Linked DNA regions of Homo sapiens: region 2 is linked to region 1. Evidence: fine-mapped expression QTL. A gene starts in region 1. The other region holds a variant in brackets. All regions are shown on one strand. Distances are from middle to middle.

Region 1 (8,343 bases):
GGGTTCAAGCGATCCTCGTGCCTCAGCCTCCTGAGTAGCTGGGACTACAGGTGTGTGCCACCATGCATGGCTAATTTTTTTGTATTTTTAGTAGAGGCAGGGTTTTGCCATGTTGGCCAGGCTGTTCTCGAACTCTTGACCTCAAGTGATTCACTCACCTTGGCCTCCCAAAGTGCTGGGAGTGCAGGCTTGAGCCAGGCTTTCTATTAAGCCTAGCTACAAACCTTCTAGTAAATGGCTGTTGCTCTTCATTTTACTTTATTTATAATATATAAAATATATAAAGTATAAAACAATATTACATATACGTGTGTGCATATGTGTGTGTACACACATATACACACGCATGTGTGTGTACACATATATACACGCATATGTATAAAATGTATACCTATATAATTTTTATTTATATATAAATTTATATATAATATATATTTATATATAATATATAAATTTATATATTATATATTTATATATAATATATAAATTTATATATATTATATATTTTTATATAATATATAAATTTATATATAATATATATTTATATATAATATATAAACTTTTATATTATATAAATTTATATAATATATAAATATATAATATATAAATATATATGATATATATAAATTTATATAATATATAAATATATAATATATAAATATATATGATATATATAAATTTATATAATATATAAATATATATGATATATATAAATTTATATAATATATAAATATATATGATATATATAAATTTATATAATATATAAATATATATGATATATATAAATTTATATAATATATAAATATATATGATATATATAAATTTATATAATATATAAATATATATGATATATATAAATTTATATAATATATAAATATATATGATATATATAAATTTATATAATATATAAATATATATGATATATATAAATTTATATAATATATAAATATATATGATATATATAAATTTATATAATATATAAATATATATGATATATATATTTATATAATATATAAATATATATATCATATGTATAAATTTATATATTATATAAATATATATGATATATATAAATTTATATATTATATAGAAATTTTAATATAGTATATATAAATTTTTATATATTATATATAAAATATATATAATATATAATATATAAATAATAAAAAATTGTATATATAAATTTTTATATACATAAAACATATATATGTAGGTGTGAGCCACTGTGCTGGGCCTGGATGCTGTTTAATAATAGTAGTAGTTTTGAGGCGCCAGCAGAGTGCAGACCTGTGACACAGTGAACCGAAGTTCTCAGGACAGCTGAGTAGCTGCTGGGTCATTCCTCAGTCACCTGACCTCAGCAGACGACCCTCTCTGCAGTTGGCTGTCCTGATCTGGGATAGTGGGGATGGCAATATCTGCTCCATGCATGGATGAGTTGGTGTGAAAATACGGCAGGAAATAACACAGGAAAGGTGTAAGTGCATCTAAAATCATATGTACATATTTGTGTAATGCTTGATGCATTACATGAGTGTTTTCAAGTAAAATATAGTGTTAATTTTAATAATGACCCACTCTGTAATAGTGAAATTTCTAACAATCTGAAAATTTGCAGTGGTGTTCTGGGTGGTTGTGTTACCTTTAACGTTGTTGATTTAAAGAGGAGTGTTACTTAGCTGCCTTAGAAACAGTTACAGCTGGGTGGCAGAGGGCACCAGGCAAGCTGACCCAGACACAATAAGAGCTACTGGAGAGAGCTGACTTCATCTAGGGAGGATGTAAGTGGACATTCTTTCATTCATCTAACAAATACTAACTGGTTGCCTAACATGTCTGTTTTGTTCATTGCTATATCCTCAGTGCTCAGAAAACCTCATTGCCCTGAAAAGGTTTATGTTGTAATAGGGGAGGCCGTTAATGTATAGACGTGTTTATCTTAGGTCATAGTTGCTACAAAGAAAAGTGAGACTGTGGGATGGACAGGGGATGGGAGGGAGGGAGGGAGATTATATTAGCATAATTAGTACCAGCTGCCTCAGCAATCTCTGAAATTTCAGTGGCTTAGTCGGACAAAGGATTTTTCTCTCACAAAGTATGATTGGGGTCGGTGACTCAGGGACCCAGGCTCCCTCTGTCTTCCGGTATCTCCAAGGAAGGAGAAGAAAGGAGGGATGGAAAGCCCCATGGTTCTGACCGAATGAAGCGATGATGTGGCATGGTGGATCTCCCGGGGAAGAGGGCTCCAGGGAGAGAGAAAAGCGAAGGCAAAAACTTCAGCAAGAAACGTGCTTGACTTGTCCCAAAAATAGCAAAGCAACCACTGTGGCTTCTTTCAGTGGAAAAGGGGGCTGGAAAGATAGCCAAGGGCCAGGCTATCTAAGGCCTCTCAGGCCAAGGGAGGAAGTAAGAAAATGCAATTGTTTGGGGTCATTTAGTGTCCCCTAAAAACTTTACAGAAGCATATGGGTGGTTATAATGATTGTGTAAACTAAACTGTGAATAATATGCTCCATTTTCTAGAGAAATCTTTACAAAATGTGTTACTGTATCTATTTCCCTGAGTGAACAGTTATAGGTTGTTAATACTGGAGCACAATTTTCTACATATCTAAGACCCTCTAGAGGTAGGGGTTTTCCTGCCACTAGTGGCCATAGGGCCAAACATCATGACAGCCTGTCCTCATCCTTCTGGAAGCCTGATGCGCGGCAAGCACAGAGGCCTCCCACTGGACTCCTACAAAGTAAGCACCTGCAGACGCCCATGCCCCAGTGCTACAAACAACCTTGGACACCCAATAATTCCTCAACCACCATTTCTACAGAGTAGCTCAACCAGTCTGTAAAAAATCATCACCTTAAACTCCTGGAATTTTCACACCTGAAATAAGCCCAAAGTTACTGTACTTAACTCTAATCTAAAAAGTAACTACTAAACGAACAGAAGGGGCGAAACTAAATTTATTTATCTTACATATTCTAGGTTAGCTTTTCAGAAGTAAAATGAGTCATATTCTAGAGGTTTAGTTAATGTGGACTTCATGTTTCTGACCACATGAAATGTTGGCATTGAAATTCAATGATCCCTGTTGCTTACTGTGAGAATAGTCAAAACCCAGAATTTTCAGCTAAAAATGTAATTTAGAATATGCTTACTGAATTGAATTAAGGTTTTGCATTAGGATAAACACTGTGGGAGTGATTCTGGTATAGTGGGTTTGTGTTTTTGTGCAAGATGCTTACAATACCACAGCCCTTAGAATAATTGTACACTCTTCTGGCCCGTTTCCCAGGTTTCCTTGAAAAGGGTCAGAGGACAGGCTGAAATTAATGACACATGAATGCAGAACCTCAATTAGAAGTGTCTTCAAAGGAATAATTAGGCTAGACTTAATAAGAGGGGATTAAGAGAAGAAAAAGCTTTGGGCAAATTATACACTGAAGGAAAGGAAGATAGGAAACAAGGCAACGATAGATTGGAGCTGATTATTTCAGGAAGTGATTTTTGTTCTATTTATCTTAAAAATAATATAAATATAGTGAGACATAGAGACAACAGATGGATGGATGGTCACTGACCTCTTACTAGGAGTGGCAATGTGAACATTGGGACGCTTCCTGGTGCATGTACCCTGCAATTGTTAGTTTAGTACCCCTATTCCCTTTGTGAAAGAGGCCAGGGATTTTGCTTCCCCCAAATAACAGTAACAGCAGCAAAAGCAGCAACAAACCCTTCAAATCTGCTTACCCTGCCAGATATTGTTTCACTTTCCTCATCTGTAAAATAGGGATTACTTTATGATGGAATCCCCACAACAACCCCCGGAGGTAGGTACGATATAAGTGCCTTGTTCCAGGTCATACAGCTAGGTAGTGTCAGAACACAGATTGAAATTCAGAAGCCTGGCTCCGAAGTTTGAGCTCTCATTCACCGCACTACATATATCTATGGGAGGATAGGCGACACATGCATGTAATAAATGTGTGAGCATTTATTGTACTGGAAACTCTCCAGCTCCTCCCTCTCTACATGATCCTTTGCTTCTAATTTTGTCAATCACAGCACCTTCCCTGGCCCTTACTTTGTTCTTGCCAATCTCCTCTCCTTGAGCAGAAGAGGGAAGGGAGCCTGCTCTGTAGGTGAACAGCTCCTCCGCAGAGGCATCCTGTTTTCTTAGTGCAATCACTAATTCGCATTGCAAAATGCTTTATTACATGACTGGGTTGCCATTCTAGGAGCATTCACTGAGCGCTCAGAGTGGGAACGTTTATCAGGCATGCAAATGCTAACTTACTTTCTAGAGAATGTTTAACTTAAAAGCCTAAAGAAATCTCAGATAATTCACTTCGGAGTAGAAACCTCCTTCAGCCGCGCTCACTACGGCGCCCGGCTTCGCGGCACCGGCCACTAGAGGGCAGTGGCCGCCGCAAAGCCGACGCGGGCGGTGGGCTCGGCGGCTCGGCCATCGCTTGCTCTCGCCTGGCAAGGGGCTCTCGGCCGTGGATTAGCGCAGCTGGAGACGTGGGAGGCCGCGGGCCCCGCCCCCGACCGGCGGCGGCTGCGGCGGCCCAGCGCGGCAGTCGGCGCTGCGAAGTGGAGGCGCTGCGAGCGGAGCCGCGCGGAGGGCGCGACCGGCTGGTCCGGGCAGCGTGGGTTTGCCGCCTTCGGGGCTCCAGTCCGCGCGCCAGGGCTCGAGCAGTACCGCGGGCCCCTCAGGTGGGCCTCGGCTCGGGACGCCGGGAGTCGGGACCGCCAGTCGGGGCGCCGGGACCATGGCGCTGCGCGCCCGGGCGCTGTACGACTTCAGGTCGGAGAACCCAGGAGAGATCTCGCTGCGAGAGCACGAGGTGCTGAGCCTGTGCAGCGAGCAGGACATCGAGGGCTGGCTCGAGGGGGTCAACAGCCGCGGCGACCGCGGCCTCTTCCCGGCCTCCTATGTGCAGGTGATCCGCGCCCCCGAGCCTGGCCCGGCGGGAGACGGCGGCCCGGGCGCCCCGGCCCGCTACGCCAATGTGCCCCCCGGGGGCTTCGAGCCCCTGCCTGTCGCGCCCCCCGCCTCCTTCAAGCCGCCGCCTGACGCCTTCCAGGCGCTGCTGCAGCCACAGCAGGCGCCGCCTCCGAGCACCTTCCAGCCGCCCGGCGCGGGCTTCCCGTACGGCGGGGGCGCCCTGCAGCCGTCGCCTCAGCAGCTCTACGGCGGCTACCAGGCCAGCCAAGGCAGCGATGATGACTGGGACGACGAGTGGGACGACAGCTCCACGGTGGCGGACGAGCCGGGCGCTCTGGGCAGCGGAGCATACCCGGACCTCGACGGCTCGTCTTCGGCGGGTGTGGGCGCAGCCGGCCGCTACCGCCTGTCCACGCGCTCCGACCTGTCCCTGGGTTCCCGCGGCGGCTCGGTCCCCCCGCAGCACCACCCGTCGGGGCCCAAGAGCTCGGCCACCGTGAGCCGCAACCTCAATCGCTTCTCCACCTTCGTCAAGTCCGGCGGGGAGGCCTTCGTGCTGGGGGAGGCGTCAGGCTTCGTGAAGGACGGGGACAAGCTGTGCGTGGTGCTGGGGCCCTATGGCCCCGAGTGGCAGGAGAACCCCTACCCGTTCCAGTGCACCATCGACGACCCCACCAAGCAGACCAAGTTCAAGGGCATGAAGAGCTACATCTCCTACAAGCTGGTGCCCACGCACACGCAGGTGCCGGTGCATCGGCGCTACAAGCACTTCGACTGGCTGTACGCGCGCCTGGCGGAGAAGTTCCCGGTCATCTCCGTGCCCCACCTGCCCGAGAAGCAGGCCACCGGCCGCTTCGAGGAGGACTTCATCTCTAAGCGCAGGAAGGGCCTGATCTGGTGGATGAACCACATGGCCAGCCACCCAGTGCTGGCGCAGTGCGACGTCTTCCAGCACTTCCTGACGTGCCCCAGCAGCACCGACGAGAAAGCCTGGAAGCAGGGCAAGAGGAAGGCCGAGAAGGACGAGATGGTGGGCGCCAACTTCTTCCTGACCCTTAGCACGCCCCCCGCCGCTGCCCTTGACCTGCAGGAGGTGGAGAGCAAGATCGACGGCTTCAAGTGCTTCACCAAGAAGATGGACGACAGCGCGCTGCAGCTCAACCACACGGCCAACGAGTTCGCGCGCAAGCAGGTGACCGGCTTCAAAAAGGAGTATCAGAAGGTGGGCCAGTCCTTCCGCGGCCTCAGCCAGGCCTTTGAGCTGGACCAGCAGGCCTTCTCGGTGGGCCTGAACCAGGCTATCGCCTTCACCGGAGATGCCTATGACGCCATTGGCGAGCTCTTCGCGGAGCAGCCCAGGCAGGACCTGGATCCCGTCATGGACCTATTAGCGCTGTATCAGGGGCATCTGGCTAACTTCCCGGACATCATCCACGTTCAGAAAGGTAAAGCCTGGCCCTTAGAGCAGGTGATATGGAGTGTATTGTGCAGGCTGAAAGGGGCGACTTTGACAGCAGTACCACTGTGGGTTTCAGAATCATATTCTACAGGTGAGGAAGCGAGCAGAGACGTGGACGCCTGGGTCTTTTCCCTAGAGTGTAAGTTGGATTGCTCGACAGGCAGCTTCCTCCTCGAGTATCTTGCATTAGGGAATGAGTACTCTTTCTCGAAGGTTCAAAGAGTACCTTTGATGACAGTGCTATCATTTTAGAGTTTGAATAGTTGAGTAATGAGCTGCTCAAATCTGTAATCTTGAGACGAGGGTAGAATTAGAAGGGGACCTAAACCATGTTAGGTATCTGTTTGAACACTGCACTGTCACTTAGTGGTGAGTTTCAAAAAGTGAGGAAATAATGGAGAAGAACGGATGTCTGTAAATAGAAATCTGCTTTCACCCTTCCACACCTCTCAATCTCTGCTTTGGTAGAGGAATTAAGATCAATTCTCTGAGTTTAAGAAATTCCTGCAAAGAATTCTTGCCTGCAACCTTTACGAAGTGAAGTAATTTCAGGAAAAGCGTACTCATTTTGAGTTTGAAATCTATTAATGTACTGAAATTGAGAACGTTGTTTAGGAAAATTGTTTAGGGAAACTACATAGAATGAATATAATCTGAGTATTGGATCTGAGAGCAGCGTTGCTGGTATCCCAGTGAGTTAGCTGTCCAACTATCAGAGTTCATGAGTTATTAATAGTTGTTAGTGTCTCTGACCTTTGCTAAAGCACCAGAATTTGCAAATTAAAAAAATATATAGCAGTAGTGCTTGTCTTAACATTTCTTACTAATGTGCATTCTCATATAATGCCTTGATTGAGAGAATGGGGAGGTGTGGGAGTTAGGGAGGCAGTCTTGCCTGTGAAAGTCCAGTGTAGGGGCGGCTGGGCAGGGAAACCTACTCCTGAGCAGGGAAACCTACTGTCCCTGTTTCCTCAGCGGGTCTGGCCTTTACTGGTGAAGTGCTCACTGCCTTTCTGGTGGGCCAGTCCGTTTATGAGCAACCCTGATCTCTGGCATGTCTTTTCTTGTATTGAACTGAAGTTTGCCTCCCTTGATTGTCTTTCTGTTCCCTGGGACCGCCTTCAGACATTTGGAGACAGCAGTCTCGCTTCCTTCCTCTCTGCTTCTCTCCTTCCCCTTCCAAATGCGTGACTGGTCTTCTGACTCCTATGGGGGAAGGGGCTTGCTGGGAGAATGATCAAACGTTTTCAGTCTTGTTGCTGCCGCTGAAAGGGAGTACCCTGGACATCAGTACTAATTTTAGTAGACAGTAGTAACTTTCTTGGCAATTTGCGATTTGTAAATGCAGTCTAATATTGAATTCGTTTTTTGTGCAATCATATTGCTGTTGGCCTGTATTAAACCTGTATTTACATTACCTATGCCTTTTTTTAAAACATAAATTGTTATGAATCTTTGACTTTTTTGACTGGTGTTGGTGGAACTGCCTTTGTGAGCCTTTAATGGAGGGATTTAGCATTTAAATTCCATTGTGTTACATCATTCTGGACCTATGCTGGCTGCCCTTTTACACATTTCTGTGAGTTTGTGCAAATTACTGGTGAACAGTTGAAAGGATGGAACCAAGTACAGACACTTGGACATGTGTGCTGGGCCGCTGGTGTCTGTCTACTTTAGGTTGGCATCAGTTCATTCACTGTCAATCACACCATGCACTCAGGCTTTGTCAAATGGCCTGCTTTTGAAATTATATATTAGAAAAGGTATGGTGTGTGTTCTAATATCTATTTTGAGTTTACAGCAATGGTCTACTTAGTCTATTAAACCATCTGGTTATGGCCAGGGTCACGCCTGTAATCCCAGCATTTTGGGAGGTCGAGGCAGGAGGATTGCCTTAAGGCCAGGAGTTCGAGACCAGCCTGGGCAACATAGGGA
Region 2 (8,343 bases), 130 kb after region 1:
CTTTTGAGGCTGACAGTAAAAATTTGCCTTCAGAGGTAACAGTGGGTAGGCCACCGAATGCTCTCCCAATCAGAGAACTTATAGTTTATAACCAGCAATCTAGGGACATGAGCATTTTAAAATTCCAGTTTTTTTGAAGGTGTATCATGTTTTAAAAAAAAATTTTTCAGAAAAAGCAATGCATTAGAATCCATACATGTATTTGTAGAATGTATGGAGTGGCTATTCTTAATTGTGGCTGATCACAATAGCTGGCATATCATAGGGGATCAGTAAATACATTTCAAATGAACAGATGGACAAATGAACTTGGTAAAGCCAATGTCACTTCCAGTTCTTGCCAAAATAATATTATCTAATATTTATTGATAGCTGATTATATGCCAAGTATAGTCTAAATGTATAAAATGCCCTCACTCATTTAACTCTCAAACAATGCTAGGAGGTAAGGACTATTTTTAATCTTTATTTTTCACGAGAATCTTGAGGACCAGAAATAGTAACTTGCTCAAAGTAAGTTACGCACCCAAAATTCAGACTTGGGTCCTATGGCCTGAGTCTATGCTGGAAGCAAAAGGGACAAGCTTTGTCTTGAAGAAACAAAGCTTATCTAGGCCTGAATAAGCTACGCTCAAGCGTACTCAGAGAAGCGATTTGCAGATTTTCTGAAGGGGCCTCCTGGGGTTAAGTGATTAGGCTGACCAAGGAGGTTATGCAAGGGCATTATGTATCAGCAAAAGCCAGGTGGGCAATGAGTGAAAGTAAGCTGTGGGCCCACGCACTATAAGGAAAGGACTAAAAGAATCATCAGTTCCTGAGGCCAATGGAGATGGCACTCCATTGTAAGGATTCTGTTGGGGATCCAGTTAGAAATATTCTTTGATAAGTGAATGAGACTGAACATACGGGGATTATGGACCTCAATTTTCAACATCTAACTTCAGTGTGGTGTCCAATATCTTATCCCCTGGCAGAATGGGCAAAGGGTCAGAGAAGCCTAACCTCAAATACCTCCTTAAGCTACAAGGACCATGACATGGGGGAATAAAGTTCATCACTGTCTAGAAATAGATTCTTTTTTTTTTTTTCTTTTGTAAGACAAGGTTTCACTCTCATCACCCAGACTGGAGTGCGGTAGCTCTATCTCGGCTCACTGCAACCTCCATCTCCCAGGCTCAAGCGACTTTCCTGCTTTATCCTCCCAAGTAGCTGGGACTACAGGTATGTGCCACCACACCTGGCTAATTTTTGTACTTTCTTTTTTTTAAAAAAAAGATGGGGTTTTGCCATGTTGCCCAGGCTAGCCTTAAACTCCAGACTCAAGCAATCCACCCACCTCTGCCTCCTAAATTGCTGGGATTACAAGGCATCAGCCACTGTGCCCGCCAGAGTAGGGTCTCATCTTACGCTCTGGCCTACAAGACGAAATAGTAATTCCCAGCAAGAGATCATCTGGATAGATTAAAAAGGGATTCATAAAATCGTGCACCCTTTACAACCTCTCTTTGACCATCATAATGAGTAAAAGAGCTTGTGGGGGCAACTCAAAAGAGGGTTCTCCTAGGGCTCTTCAATAGAAGGGGATGGGGTAATCAAGACTTGGGAATCTATCCATATCAGGTTGATAAAAAAAAAATCAGGAGGCTGGGTGTGGTGGCTCACACCTGTAATCCCAGCACTTTGGGAGGCCGAGGTGGGAGAATCACTTGAGATCAGGAGCTCAAGACCGGCCTGGTCAACATGGTTAAACCCCATCTCTACTAAAAATACAAAAATTAGCTGAGTGTGGTGGCACATGCCTGTAGTCCCAGATACTCAGGAAGCTAACATAGGAGAACTGCTTGAATGTGGGAGGTGGAGATTGAAGTGAGCCGAGATTGTGCCACTGTACTCCAGCCTGCACGACAAAGCAAGAATCTGTCTCATAAAAAGAAAAAAAAAATCAGGAAGGAGTATACAGAAGTTCTGAGAGCTTGACATGGTCCCGTAACTCTGTTTCTTTTCTTGAGACTCACCCAGGGGTTCGATACCACCTTGTTCTTCACCAGAGTCAGGCCAGAACAATGCAAGACAATCCTTTCACAGGTGTGACCTGTGCACCACCCACTGCTGCTTCAGTATTGTTGTCATATCCTGATAAATTTTTACATAGATGTTGTATTATTACATATTATATGTGTATGTGTGTGATATTCCCCAAATTCAGTGGATACAAGAGACCAGCAGCTTTCAAAAATGCATTTAAAAGAGGTCTTTTTTTTAAACTGACAGAATTATGTCTGGAATCTCAGCACATAAAATAAACAGGAGCTCTCTGGTTGAAGTTGGCGTGGGATGGGGCTGGAGCCATTCTGCCAGGAGTGGTGGAGGGAAGGCTGGGGATCTTCCTACAAACCTAGCCACCCACAGAGAAGAACACCTTTAGGGCACTGCACTCAGGGTTTTGAGCGTGCACTACAGAGAGTGCACCACAAAGGTTTTCAAAGAGCTTTGAGTATCTACTATTTCTCACAGCACAACAAAAATTTTTATCCCTTGAGAAGAATTATTCTGTAAGTGACAGGGAAACTATAGAGTCACATTGAGGAGGACGCTTTGCTATACCTCATTTTCCTGCAGGCTCCTTAGCCCCTTGTAAAATCATGGGTGCTGAATGTGTGTATGTATGCGTGTGCGGGTGGGAGGTGCAACGCGGCAGCATTGCCTATCACCTCCCACCAAGAGCAGCCATGCCCCAGTTCCTTGCTGAGTCAAAAATATTCTCTTCCATACTTCTTTCAAAACGATTGGTGGCTACTTGCCTTAGATCTACTTAACTAAAGAGCTATTCAAGGACTTCTTGAAAAATCAGACAGTGATTTTATAATAAAAGGCTGACAGTGTCTCTGGGACTGAGAGACGGACCTGAGTACTAAGATTAGAAATGGAGGAGGCTGATGAAGTATATGTATTCGTTGATGCTACAGCAGCAGCACAGCGGATCATTCCCCAACTATCAGGAACCATGAAAGGTCTGAGAGAAGGAGGCTGGGAACTTTTTTGTCCTTGGTCGGGTCACAATGCTCCTGTAAATCTTTAACAAAACATAATTAGTTGTTTATATACTTCCTCTTTAATCCCAGAGTTCGATTTACAAAATATTTGATTGCTGTTTTTGTATATTATCTCAGTGCTCTAAAATTACCCTAGCAAACGTGCAGGAATGGGTGTAGGCCCCTTAAATAAAAATGGAATTAGTTATGTTGGGTTTTTTTTTTTTGCTGTTTCACTGCTACAATTCCCCACTGTCAAAGGCTCATTCCACAATTTTGTGGGATTAGGGACAATGGGATGTCATCTCTCAGCTGGCTACTTCTTGCCAAACAGGGTCAACGTGGGGCAACTGTGGAATGAAACTTTTTGACCTGGCAGTGAGCTGATGTTCAGGCCCTTGTTCCTTCCAGGTCTTTAGGAGGACCTATTTCTTAGTTGAAAAGGATGCAGGTCCATATCCATGGGAAAAATGATTCTGCTGGAAGCAAACTTATAAACAAAAGTTAGTATAATATCTAGCGTCTTAACATATTTGGCAATTGTTAAATCTCTTAGAGCATCGGTTGGTTCTCACACCAGGGCAGAAACCTGGAATGGCCTACCATATCAGCAAGAAAATCAATACATTTGCTCCCTACTGTCAATTGTATCCAGGGCTCCTGTGGGTATATGATAGATCAGCTCAACATACATATTTAATGGGTTACAGAAGTAGCTATAAATATTTATGAAGGTGGTCTTGACACATGTGTACTGAACAAACATGCATGTAACACACGTTTATCTTGGGGTGGAGACTTAACCTTTGCCGGGCATGGCCTTAGGTCCTGTTTATGATTTGGTATCTTATAGCCACAGGCTGTGCTGCCAGTCTCATGATCTCTATTTTAACATTAATGCTGTTGTTGTGTCTAAACTATAAAGGGAGGGGGGATAACAAGGCATTCCCAACCTCGTTTCTCGTGGCTCACTTTCAAGCAGTGGGCAGCTGAATATGGGCTCAGTTACACCAACATGTTCAGGTAGGAGGACTTCTTTTTTTAATACTTGAATTCTACATACTCTCACATAATGGTCATTATATTTTTAGTATCCAGTTATTGCTTTTTGCCATAATGTATTTTCTCAGATAAAAATTTAGTCACATCTTAAAATAAACTTGCATTTTACTAATCAAAACTGCATCTATAGGACTTGAAAAATAGTAATAAATAGATGTGAAA[A/C]ACACATTCAATTTATAGCAATACTTAGCACACAAATAGATTCATGGATTACCCTCCTCCCCCCAAAAATCTGATGGTTGAACCCATCTAAATAAATCATATTACCTTTTTTAAAAAACGACTTTTGGTTAGTTTATATAAATTATTTTCCATGAATGTAGTTCTAGTAATAATGAATGAATGCACTGTTTATTGACTATTTGCAAATTGTTTTTGTTATCTCAGATTGAAATTTTGGAGGTATCAATTCCTTGAGATGGGAGGAGAACGGAAGGAAAACAAACAACTACCTTTTCCTTTCCTGTTGTTGCTGATGTGCACTTTCCCTGTCTTCCACGTCATGACTCAGGAAATGAGGGGGTGCATCTCAGAGGGCACCCTGCCTGTGTTCTCTGTCATTGCCTGTGAGCCACCGACTGATACCATCATTTTAATCACTCAAGAAGCCTTCCTTTCAGGAATGTATATTGCTTCTTGGCCCCTGCCTTCTCCCTGGAAATCCTGGGCAAAGAGCCAGGGAAAAAACGTGAGTGCTCAGGCCGAAATCAGTGGGCTGGAATTGTTTCTTCACTTTGGGTGACTCCACTGTTACTCAAGGAATGAACTGATTGGCACCAAGCAAGAAGAACAGCACATCTCTTTGGACTCATTCCCTTATTTATAAGCCATAACCTTAGGGACAATAAGCTAGAGACCCTGCCAGCATCCTTGAGCCAGGATCTCATCTGTTGTCACAGTAGCCATGTTTCCCTGGCATCCGAGAGCCCAAGGATGCAAATAAGGCCTGGGCCAAACTAAGCTCTGACAATTAATGTTATTCCAAAGAGGCAGCAGCGAGGGTAGGAAGTTCTGGTCCCCTCATCTTACTTCAAGTTTCACAGCCAAGAGTGATGATAGCTTTAGTCAGTAAGTACAGTCAAGGAGCCTATGAGACAGAACTTGTCACAAAGACAGCTGATGTTTCGCATGGACCTTAACAGAGTAACTGGTGTCTCTTCAGGAATGGGGCACAATCCAGAGGTTACTAACCACGGGTGAGTAACAGGTGATCCACAACAATCTCATCTGACTCATAGTAGAGATTGCTGGCATCTACCCAGCATTCATTCCCCCTCTTCCTAAGAGAAACTCAATTCGTTGTAATCAGCAACATATTCCCAACAGGAAAATCACATTTCAAGCCTTCCTTTAGATAGGTGACTACATTTTGGCCAGTGAGATAGGAGTGAAAGTTGTCAGATGGGCTCCTCCTGACAACTCCTTTAGAAGGGGCTGACCCAGCTGTCAGCCATTTGCCCTGGTGTGTCCTCCTCTCTACTGACTACAATATAGGTGTGATGGCTAGAGTAGCAGCTGCTATCTTGGGACAAGGGGAGACCTTGGGGTAAACAGAACCTAGGATAGTAAAGCAGAAAGATAGAAGAGCCTGGGCTGATGATGATGTGGCAGAACTGCCAAACAAGCTCTGGACTGCTAATCTCTGGACTTAACTTTCAGGAAACAAAATTAAACTCTATCTGGCTCAAGCCACTCTTACTTTATGGACCAAGAGCATTGGCAGCACTTGGGAGCTTGTTAGAAAGGCAGCTTCTCAGGCCCCTTCCCAGGCCAAATGAGTGACGATCGGCTTTGTAGCAAGATCCACAGGTGATTTGCATGCACAGTAAAGTTTGGGAAGCACTGCTCCAGATGTAGTTAGTTTCTCTGTTTATGAAATTATTAACTGATATATCCTGGGAAATAATGAATTCTATTTGCCGGTACTAAAACATGGTAAGAATGATATAACCATAGGATAAAACAACTAAAATGCCCTGAGTTATTTGGATACAAAGAAAGAAAGCATTCATGTCAATTAGGTAATTGATGTTCCAGCCACTATACCTGGCACCAGAGAAGTAAAGATATCCCTGCTCTAGACTCCATGGTCTAACAAGGGAGACATATAGATACTGTGTATTGTGTTGCATTGCATTATAAGAACCGTTTGGATGCAATAAGAGCTATGCCCAGGTGTTCCGGGAAAACAGATGAGGGGTCTAAGCCTTCCCTCCTGGGCTAGGGAGTAAGTTAGAGAAAACTTCTTGGAAGAGATGTCACCTGAGTAGTTAAGAATTATCTTGCTTCTTCCCCCAGTTTCAGGGATCAGAGGCCATCCTTTGTGGGCTTAAGTCAGCCTGCTGGCCTCCCCAGCTGCTCCTTAAATTCTAAGAGTTGGCATAAAAGACACAGGTTACAACACGAATGTCTTCATCCTACACGATCTTTACTTTCTCTGTTCACAATGTGGGCTCCTTGGCTCCATTTTACATATACAGGAAATTTGGACACCGAATAGAGAGTGAATTTCAAAGGATTCAGAGAAGGCAAACCCATATGAGTGTTTAGAGTTCATTGATCACTAGTATCTTCTTAATTTTGTGAACACCGGGTTCTGAATTCCTTCATTGACTAGCTATTTCTCTTCATGTCTTCTACAAACATTCTGAAGTTGGAAATCCTTTTTATTGGTGTTTAGAATAAGTCAATGTTTTTCCTCTCTTTATATTTCTACTTGATATTCCTCAGTTTTCTGTATTATTAAAAATGAAATCACATTTTTGGATACTTGTGGTTTGGCCGGCTGGTTGGGAAACTTTTCTGGCATTCATTATTGCTTTTTTCTTTCCATTTAAAGAACATTTACTGGATTTGGTACTTGGCGAAAGAAACTGACAAATTAAGAAATGAGAGAGAGAATAAATGCACTGTGCATGCTGAAACCCCAAGAAGACTTTTTTTCTCCTACTTTTTATGGACCTGAGGTGTTGGAAATGGAAACATTGTTTCAAACAAAATCCAGATTTTTATCTCTCTCCCCAAGAGATATGGCTTTAATCTTTTTTCTTTTCTTCTGCTGCTTTTCTGAAACACTCTGCTAGGGGCTGATTTCCTCTTCTTTGAAACAGACCAAAATATCCCTGTGGGTGAAAAACATGCCGGAAGTGAAACAGAAAGACTCAGCTTGCCCCGTGTTCGTGGTCTGTCAACTTCTCTAGCCAGTGCCTGGATCCACAGCTCACTGCTGCCGGTTGCCCTGCGTTAGCCGCATTGCGGGGGAGACAGGAGAGGCTTGAAGGCTTTTTATATTCTACTCTCTTCTGAAGAATTCACAAGTTAGCAAGCACTCAACCACTACTAACCAGAAGGTATTGCCAACCATAACAAACTACACCCATCAACAAGGCCTCCCTCATATTGCAATCCCAGCAGAAAATGATGCAGGAAAAGCACTCCCCAAATCTTGGTTGCCTGCCACCCAAGTTCTTATGCCAAGATATGTGTTTAGCCAGTTCTAAGATGCTGCCACCTTTTCATGTGTCCAACACTAGGCTTTCTACCATAGTTCCCTCCACCCAGAATGTGTTACTTGGCTCCTACAAATGCAAGAGGAAGTGCCCTTCCCTGAACAGAAATCAAAACACAGGGTGAAACCACGACTTGTTTTCAACAGGCCTCCTGTTGTGAGCCCTCCCAGCTGTGCTGCCTTTCTCCAAGAGAGCTGGGACTGGCGGCTCGAAGCGGTATAAATGGCCTGTGCCTCTTCCTGAGGCTGCCTGTAACAAGTGTCTCAAGAGCAATTCGTCATCGGCTGGAGATTACCAACTTGGCTCACTGAACCAGATCGTGCTTTGTCACATGTGAAATTCTGATGTTCTAATACATGGCTTGTTTGCAAACTACGCCTTAAATAAATATATTCAGGATATTTAACAATATAGTGTTCTGAATTAGACCATCATTTACATCTGTATTTATTCAATAATCATTTACTAAGTGCCAAATACATGCCGAGTACTATGCCGAGTGCAACAGTTAAAACGCAGGAAAAAGATCGTATTGCCCTTACTGGGCTATAAATTCAAATCTCTGTCTCATCTCATCAAGCAATCTTTCCGCCTTGGCCTCCCAAAGTGCTGGAATTATAGGCATGAACCACCACACCTGACCCAGGAGAGTTTTCTTTAACGAGTGATGCTTGATCTCAGTTTTGAAAAGTATAGAGGTGTTCACCTAGAGGAGAGGAAAGAACAGAGCATTCTGGAAA

The links.
Region 2: its variant is fine-mapped to the expression of SNX18 in whole blood (INTERVAL, PIP above 0.99).

Annotation. Positions count from the first base shown.
Region 1 is chr5:54,513,180-54,521,522 of GRCh38, forward strand. It overlaps SNX18 (sorting nexin 18), which reads left to right and starts at 4,580. Exons shown (of 2, transcript NM_001102575.2): 1 at 4,580-6,394. The coding sequence starts at 4,774. RefSeq lists silencers at 4,334-4,575, 4,456-5,015 and an enhancer at 5,488-6,432.
Region 2 is chr5:54,639,136-54,647,478 of GRCh38, forward strand. It overlaps a transcript of SNX18 not described here. Among named protein-coding and RNA genes, the nearest start is that of LINC02998, 100 kb to the right of the region's middle. RefSeq lists an enhancer at 377-951. The variant A/C (reference allele first, on the strand shown) is at 4,257.